Regions from separate parts of the Homo sapiens genome. Here region 1 is linked to region 2. The links come from fine-mapping of genetic effects on gene expression. A gene starts in region 2. The other region holds a variant in brackets. All regions are shown on one strand. Distances are between the middles of the regions.

Region 1 (4,388 bases), 29 kb before region 2:
AATGAAGCAAGGCTAAGTGTGATTGGTAAAGAAGTAGCATTGGCTTATGTTAGCTTGGATGCATGGATGGTTGGTTATTCTTGTGGTTTGGACAATGTTCTTGTTTCTCTCTTTGTTCAGATATGATTACTGAGAGATCTTATTTCTGTCTGGATCTCTCGAGGTCGGTCACAGCATTGCCTTGCCTAATGTTGGTATTCTGTGAAATGCTTACGAGAAAACCAAAGCATTGCTAAGACTGCCAGGCAAGTTCCTGGCTGCCGGGAGCTGCTTTCTCCTTCTCAGCTCCTCTTCTGCTCCTCTTCCTGGGAGCTGAGCATTGTTACATAAGTGGTGAGAGAGCTAAAGGAAAAACAAAAAGAAGGAGAATTTTCCAGTAAAACTTTCTGGAAAAAGTAGCACTGAGCTATGAGGCAAAGCAAGAATAGGATGCTGAGAGGTGGGCCAGAGGGAGTGTTCTAGGAGAATGGGATGGCTTGGAAGCAGGAGAAGGAGGCCTGCGGAAGAGGACCAGTGCATGTGTGTGTATGCATGTGTGAATAGGAGGAGAAAAAACAAAACAAAACAAGCCACCTGAGCTGGACTAAGAATGAGGAGGGAGGCTGGGCGCGGTGGCTCACGCCTGTATTCCCAGCACTTTGCGAGGCTGGGGTGGGCGGATCACCTGAGGTCAGGAGTTTAAGACCAGCCTGGCCAACATGGAAAAACCCTGTCTCTACTAAAAATACAAAAATTAGCCGGGCATGGTGTGTGTGCCTGTAATCCCAGCTGCTCGGGAGGCTGAGGCAGGAGAATGAATCCCTTGAACCCAGGAGGCAGAGTTTGCAGTGAGCTGAGATTGCACCACTGCACTCCAGACTGGGCGACAGAGTGAGACTGTCCCAAAAAAAAAAAAGAAGAAGAAGAAGAAAAGAAGAAGAAGAATGAGGAGGGAAGACTGGAGCCTTCTCAAACTAAAAAAAAATTAGGAGGAAGGTATGGAGGTGGCCGAGGATGGGGCCAGAGTGAAAATAGAGGAAGGGGCCAGGTACAGTGGCTCACGCCTGTAATCCCAACACTTTTGGAGGCCAAGGCAGGAGGATTGCTTGAGCCCAGGAGTTGGAAACCAGCCTGATCAACCTGGTAAGACCCATCTCTACAAAATTAAAAAATGAAAAACTAGCCGGGCACAGTGGTGCACGCACCTGTAGTCCCAGCTACTCAGGAGGCTGAGGTGGGAGGATCACTTGGGCCCAGGAGGTCAAGGCTGCAGTGAGCTGTGATGGAGCCACTGCACTCCAACCTGGGTGACAGAGCAAGACCCTGTCTCAAAAAATAAAATTAAATTAAACAACAACAACAACAAAAAAAAAAAAACAGAAGAAGGTGGTGAAGATAGTGATGGTGAAGAAGCCTGTGTTCCATCTCGTTCTGGCTGAGTTGGGGGTAGGGAATGGAAGCACAGAGAGGAGCAGAGGGCAGCTGAAGGGAGTTCAGAGTAGCCACACTTGGGGTCAGGAGACTGGAGACCACACATGCAGGCCTTCCTGCCTTCTCTTGCCACTACCCCAGGGCTTGGCCAAGACTAAGGTGAACACTTGCTGGGTGAATGGGAGAGAGTAATTCCGAGGCAGGAAAGGACCTCAGGAGCACCGGAGTGAGTTGGGAAATGATGTGGACCCTGAGCCAGGCCTACTTCCTCTTCAGTTCCCACCTCCTCATCCTCCTAGGTAGCAGCAATTCCCTCAGCCTGTTTTACCCTCTTTTTTTTTTTTTTTTTCCTTCAGACAGTCTCGCTCTGTCGCCCAGGCTGGAGTGCAATGGCACAATCTTGGCTCACTGCAACCTCCACCTCCTGGGTTCAAGCGATTCTCCTGTCTCAGCCTCCCCAGTAGCTGGGATTACAGGCAGGTGCCACCACACCCAGCTAATTTTTGTATTTTTAGTAGAGATGGGTTTTCACCACGTTGGCCAGACTGGTTTTGAACTCCTGACCTCAGGTGATCTGCCTGCCTTGGCCTCCCAAAGTGCTGGGATTACAAGCGTGAGCCACGGTGCTCGGCCTGTTTTACCCTCTTTTGATCCTCCTCCTTCTCACCCCCTGTGACAGCCTCCCTGGGGATGCTCTTGCATCTACTCTCCTGGGCCCCTCTGGGAGGTCTTTCTTGATCTGGCAAAGGTGGACATAAGTCTAACCCTCCCCTGCCCATCCCTGGATTTCTCGCCTGCAAAAG[T/C]GAGGTAAACCAGCTATGGTAGGAAAATGGCTATAAGGAGATTTAGTTTCTCTATTTCTAAATGGCTAGGTTAAAAACAAACACAAGAGGCTGGGCGAGGTGGCTCATGCCTGTAATCCCAGCTAAACCCCTATTAAAAATAAAAAATTAGCTGGGCATGGTGGCACGTGCCTATTATCCCAGCTACTCCGGAGGCTGAGGCAGGAGAATCACTTGTACCTGGGGCGTCAGCGCAAGACTCTGTCTCAAACAAACAAACAAACAAAGCACAAGAAACTACATAGATAACGTTCATCCTCTGCTTAAAGTCTTCCTGTGGCATCAAGTCCACTTTTTTTTTGAGACAGTCTCACTCTGTCACCTAGGCTGGAGTGCAGTGGCTTGATTACGGCTCACCTCCATCTGCACCTCGGGAGGTGCAGCCTCCACCTCCCGAGCTCAAACAATCCTCCCACCTCAGCTTCCCAAGCAGCTGGGACCACAGGCATGCACCAGCACACCTGGCTAATTTTTGTATTTTTTGTACAGATGGGGTTTTGCTATGTTTCCTAGGCTAGTCTCAAACTCCTGGGCTCAAGGGATCTCCCACCTTGGCCTCCCAAAGTGCTGGGATTACAGGCCTAAACCACTTTGCCTGGCTTTTTTTTTTTTTTCAATTGAGTCAGGGTCTCACTCTGCCATCCAGGCTTGAGTGCAGTGGTACGATCATGGCTCACCGAAGCCTCAACCTCCTGGGTTCAATCAATCTGCCTATCTCAGCCTTCTGAGTAGCTGGGACTAAAGGCATGAGCCACCATGACTGGCTAATTTTTTTATCTATTTTTTGTAGAGACAGGGGTCTCCCTATGTTGCCCAGACTGATCTTGAACTCCTGGGCTCAAGCAATCTGCCCACCTCAGCCACCAAAAGTGCTGGGATTACAGGCGTGAGCCACCGAGCCCAGCCATCAAGTCCATTTTGAATAAAATCCAACTTCTTATCCTGGTTCCTAGAGCCATACATGACTTATGCTTGCCCCCTGGCTGACCTCATCTCCTGCAGTTCTCCTCTCTCCAGCTATATTGAACTTTTTAAAATTCCTCCAATAATGGCTTTAAAACTTTTCTATTCACAAGTCACAGTCAGAAATACATGTTATATCACAGTCCAAAACATACACTCATGCTATATTTAGAGATATAGATATATCAATATATATCACACTATATATATCTCTGCATGCATATATGTATATGTCTCCTAAAGTTTCCTCAAACATTAACCTTTACAATGCATTCTGATATTTTCTTTTCTACTTCTTTTTCTTTTTCTTTTTTTTTTTTTTTAAGATGGAGTCTCATTCTGTCACCAGGCTGGAGTGCAGTGGCTCACTGCAACCTCCGCCTCCCGGGTTCAAGTGATTCTCCTGCCTCAGCCTCCCAAGTAGCTGGGACTATAGGAGTGCACCACCACGCCCAGCTAAATTTTTTATTTTTAGTAGAGACGGGGTTTCACCATGTTGGCTAGGATGGTCTCGATCTCCTGACCTTGTGATCTGCCCGCCTCGGCCTCCCAAAGTGCTGGGATTACAGGTGTGAGCCACTGTGCCTGGCTACTTCATTTTTTGAATGCTTGTCAGGACTCACTACATTGATTTCACTATCCACTGTGCTCACACACCAAACTTATACTCAGGGCCTTTTCACTGGCTGTTCCCTCTACCAACAATGCCCTTCCCCCTGACTGCCCGCATTGGCACCTTTTCATCCTTTACATCTCAGGTTAAGTGTCTCCTGTCCAGAGAAGTCAGCTAGCCTGAAGTAGCCACCTGATCCTTCTCTTTCATGTTCTCAGTATGGCCTTTATCACTCTGATATTTTTCTAGTTTATGGTTTTTGTTGACCTATTTTTTTGTTGATCGTCTTTCTCCCTCACTATGATAAGGTGGACTCTGTAGGTGCAGTGACCTTCTCACTTTGGTATCATACCTAGAACAGTGCCTGGGAACAGCAGGTACTCGGTATTATTAGTAGACTGTGGGAATGGGCCTAGTCAAGACTCTTGCTCTCTTTGGGCCTCGGCATTCTCCTCTATACAGTGTGAGGTCGGAGCCACTCCCCAAGACCCCTCCAGCTCTATCAACCCAGTTTTCCAAGAAGCACCAGAGGATGTGCTCCAGAAACCCAGCGTTGGGCC
Region 2 (4,388 bases):
CCGCCTCCTGGGTCCAAGCGATTCTCCTGCCTCAGCCTCCTGAGTAGCTGGGATTACAGGCATGTGCCACCACGCCCAGCTAATTTTGTCTTTTTAGTAGCGATGGGGTTTCTCCATGTTGGTCAGGCTGGTCCCGAACTCCCGACCTTAGGTGATCCAACATGGTGAAACCCCATCTCTACTAAAAATACAAAAAATTAGCCGGGTGTGGTAGCGGGTGCCTGTAATCCCAGCTACTTGGGAAGCTGAGGCAGGAGAATCACTTGAACCTGGGAGGTGCAGGTTGCAGTGAGCCGAGACTGTGCCACCTCACTCCAGCCTGGGCAACAGAGAAAGACTCAGTCAAAAAAGGAGAGAGAGAGGGAGAGGGAGAGAGAAAGAGAGAAAGAAAGGAAGGGAAGGGAAGGGAGAAGAAAAGAAAGTAATCTACTTTCTGTCTTTATAGCTTGGCCTTTTCCGGATATTTCATATAAATGGAACCATACAATATGTAATCACTTGTGTCTGGCTTATTTCACTGAGCATAGGGGTTTTTTTGGCCGAACATGGTGGCTCACGCCTGTAATCCCAGCACTTTGGGAGGCCGAGGTTGGTGGATCATTTGAGGTCAGGAGTTTGAGACCAACCTGGCCAAGATGATGAAACCCCGTCTCTACTAAAAATACAAAAATTAGGCAGGCATGGTGGTGACACCTGTAGTCCAGCTACTCGGGAGGCTGAGGCAGGAGAATTTCTTGAACCCGGGCGGTGGAGGTTGCAGTGAGCCGAGATCACGCACTGCACTCCAGCCTGGGTGACAGAGTGAGACTCCAGTCTTAAAAAAAAAAAAAGGGTTTGTTTGTTTTGTTTTTGTTGTTGTTTCTTTTTGATACAGGGCTGCTCTGTCACCCAACTGGAGTGCAGTGGCTTGACTATGGCTTGACCTCTGGGGCTCAGGTGATCTTCTCACCTCAGCCTCCTGGGGTAGCTGGGACAACAGGTACGCACCACCACGCCCAGCTAACTTCTTTTGTATTTTTTGTGGAGAAGGGGTTTCGCCACATTGCTCAAGCTAGTCTCGATCTCTTGGGCTAAAACGATCCTCCCGCCTCGGCCTCCCAAAGTGCTGGGATTACAGGTGTGAGGCACAGCGCCCAGCCTGCATATTCTTTTTGAGGTTCATCCACATTGTAGCTGGTATCCATAGTTTGTTCTGAATAATATTCCATTGTATGGACATAGCATATTTTGTCTACTCATTCACATGTTAATGGACATTTAGGTTGTCTCCAATTTTTCCAACTGGGCTATTATGAGTGAGACAGATAAGAAAATTCCTGTGCAAGTTTTTGTGTGTATACATGCTTTCATTTCTCTTAGGCAGATCCCTAAGAGTGAAATTATTGGGTCACATGGTAAATTTATGTTTAACATTTTAAAAAATTGCCAAACTGTTTTCCAAAGTGGCTACACCATTTTACATTTCTACCACCAATATATGAGGGTTCTCGTTTCTCCACATTCTCTCCAACACTTATCTTTTTAAAAAAGGTTTTTGTTGTTGTTGTTGTTTGCAGTTTTTACAGTTTTATTTAAACAGAAAACATACACATGAGCTGTCTACTCATTTTCTTTGCTGCGCAGCCTGGGATTGGGGTTGGTGACTCTGACGGCCAGCTGGGCAGCTCTTTTCCACGATGGCTTTGCGGTTCTTGGAGGAAACATTGTGAGCGATCTCAGCACAGTAAGATTTGTTGCACAACAGCAGCACTTCCAGCTCCTTGACGTGTGGACCAGGAATTTCCGGAAGCCACTGGGCAGCATGTGCTTTGTTTTCTTGTTGCTCCCATAATCAATGTTGGGCATCAAGATCTAACCCTTGAACCTTCCACGAACCCTGTTGTCAATACCTCTGGGTTTCCGCCGGTTACGCTTAATTTTGACATATCGGTCAGACTGGTGCCGGATAAACTTCTTGGTTCTCTTTTTGACGATCTTGGGCTTCCCAAGGGTTCTGAGGACGGTTTATAAAAGTGCACTGAGGGGAGGCTGAGACAGGAGAATTGCTTGAACCCGGGAGGCGGAGGTTGCAGTGAGCCGAGATCGTGCCCATCCTAGGCGACAGAGAGAGACTCTATGTCAAAAATAAATAAATAAATAAATAAATAAATAAATAAATAAATAAATAAAATGCACTGAGGAGACAGATTTTTGAGAGTTAAAAGGACCCTCTCAAAAACCGACCGCGGTCCTCCACTGGGTAGGGGGCGCTCCAAGACAGGGACTCTTCTAGCCTGTTGCCTCTCCATGTTAGCGATATCCTCGTTGCTAGGAGACTAGACGCGTCTTACAGTGGGAGAGCTCAGCCTCACTGATAGCCGGGGATCTCTCCTGTTCGAGGGCTGAGATCTCCGGTCCCACAACCGCCCACAACCAGGGGCACTTCTGGAAGTCCCCTTTCTAGGGACATTTTTCTTCTAAGCTCTGTAACGCGGGCCGAGGCAGACCGAGGCTTCTTTCCCGGATCCAATCCCCTGCCCCCATGCCTAAGAAAGAAAAAATGGCCAAGACGCCCCTGTCCGATGAGAAGCAGCTGCTTCTGTTTCAGCAGAAGTTGCTGGCAGAGGAGGAGATGGCCAAAAAGAAGGAGAGGCTCCTCAGCCAGTTCTTGAAGGTGATGGCCTTTTGCATTATGTCCTGCTCAACCCCATCCACCCCCTGCCCTGGCCCTGTCACTGAGGAAACCTCATTTTCATCCTGACCTCCCCTCCTCCGGAAATCCTGAGACCCAGATATACTTAGATTTCAGGCAACATTGTTTGGGAGGCGGGGGTGTTCTCTGCGAAGCACGGAGGGGGTGCGTGGTATACGGCTTGGCAATCTTTACTGAATCCCAGAACTGGGACCGTAGGTCCTGTCAGCTGTTCCAGCTGTCTGGAATGCTGATATTCTCCCTGGAGATAGGTCATTACAAACAACATCCTACTCTGATGCTCCCACCCTGAAGGAAATTCACCCTTGCCCTCCCTAAATGCCATCAGGCCGTTCCCATCGAAAAGGGGTAAGGTGTCAGCTGATAAATTAAGAGTGATCTTGTTTGTTGTACTGAAAGGCCCTGACTTCCTGGAGGTATATTTATTCCTTCACACAGGACAAGCTGGCCAAGGAGGAACACAACAGTGCTCTGAACCTTAATAAGATTAACACACAGTGGAGAACTGTCCTTCGGGAAGTCAAGACCAGAGAACTTCATAAGGACATTGAGATCCTCAGCCAAACATTTGAACGAGTGGTGGACTGTAAGGACAATGTCATCAAGGTAGGCACTCTTTCCAAGGAAACCTTGAGTATGGCTTCCTGACCTCTTAATAGAATGAGCCTAGTGAATCCATCTTAAAGCCCTCACAAGACACAGGCTGTGAGAAAGCCAGGCTATTGGTAATAATGGTTTTCACAGAAATAAAAAATAGAATATTGGGCTTTCATCCCTCTCTCCCTTAGAGGACCCACTCTTCTTGTCATCTATTGCCCAAAACCAGTACTATCCAATAGTAGAGTCATAAGGCACAGTAGACATCACCCAGTGACTTGAAATGAGTCCCACACCTTCATTTCAATGTCAGAAGGCTCAGTTCCAGAGGGGAACTGACTTGCCCAAGGTCACATAGCTAGTCAGTGAGAGAACCAGGACTCCAGCATGTGTTTATTGATTCCCACTGCAGTGCTCCATTCAACTAAATTGTTTGGCCTCTTGATTCAACTTCAGTGGCCCTGGATAAGGTTGAGAAGATCTCCATGGGTAAGAGCAGTTCTGGATTTCTAAGCAATTCAATCAGCCATCCTTATGCTCTTGGGAGGTTCTTGAGTTCTTGATTCCATCCTATCTTTTCTTCTAAGGGATTTTCTGTACCCCTTCTTTTGTCTTACTTTTAATATTCTGCCTCCATTTACTGCCTTCTCCTTAGTCTTTTCCATTATTTATTTATTTATTTATTTGACATGGAGTCTTGCTCTGTTGCCAGGCTGGAGTGCAGTGGCACAATCTCGGCTCAGTGCAACCTCTGCCTCCCAGGTTCAAGTGATTCTTCTGCCTCAGCCTCCCGAGTAGCTGTGACTACAGGCATGTGCCACCATGCCTGGCTAATTTTTGTATTTTTAGTTGAGATGGGGGTTTCACCATGTTGGCCAGGATGGTCTCGATCTCCTGACCTTGTGACCCACCCGCCTTGGCCTCCCAAAGTGCTGGGATTACAGGCGTGAGCCACTGCACCCAGCCAGAGTCTTTTCCATTTTCAACAAAACAAAGCCCACAGTAACAGCAAAATATACATTGCCAACATGGTATTCCCCCTCTAGAAAACACACATTTCTCTTTCATAGCCTAATCCCTGGGGAAAGAGCTCAGCAGA

The links. PIP is the estimated chance that this variant, and not a neighbour inherited with it, causes the effect.
Region 1: its variant is the best candidate, but not a certain one, in a credible set for the expression of DRC2 in atrial appendage (GTEx, PIP 0.53).

Annotation. Positions count from the first base shown.
Region 1 is chr12:48,873,103-48,877,490 of GRCh38, forward strand. No RefSeq gene overlaps it. Among named protein-coding and RNA genes, the nearest start is that of RND1, 9.4 kb to the left of the region's middle. The variant T/C (reference allele first, on the strand shown) is at 2,214.
Region 2 is chr12:48,901,816-48,906,203 of GRCh38, forward strand. It overlaps DRC2 (dynein regulatory complex subunit 2), which reads left to right and starts at 2,318. Exons shown (of 8, transcript NM_033124.5): 1 at 2,318-2,653; 2 at 3,131-3,298. The coding sequence starts at 2,522. It also overlaps the pseudogene RPL32P27. RefSeq lists a silencer at 2,275-2,324.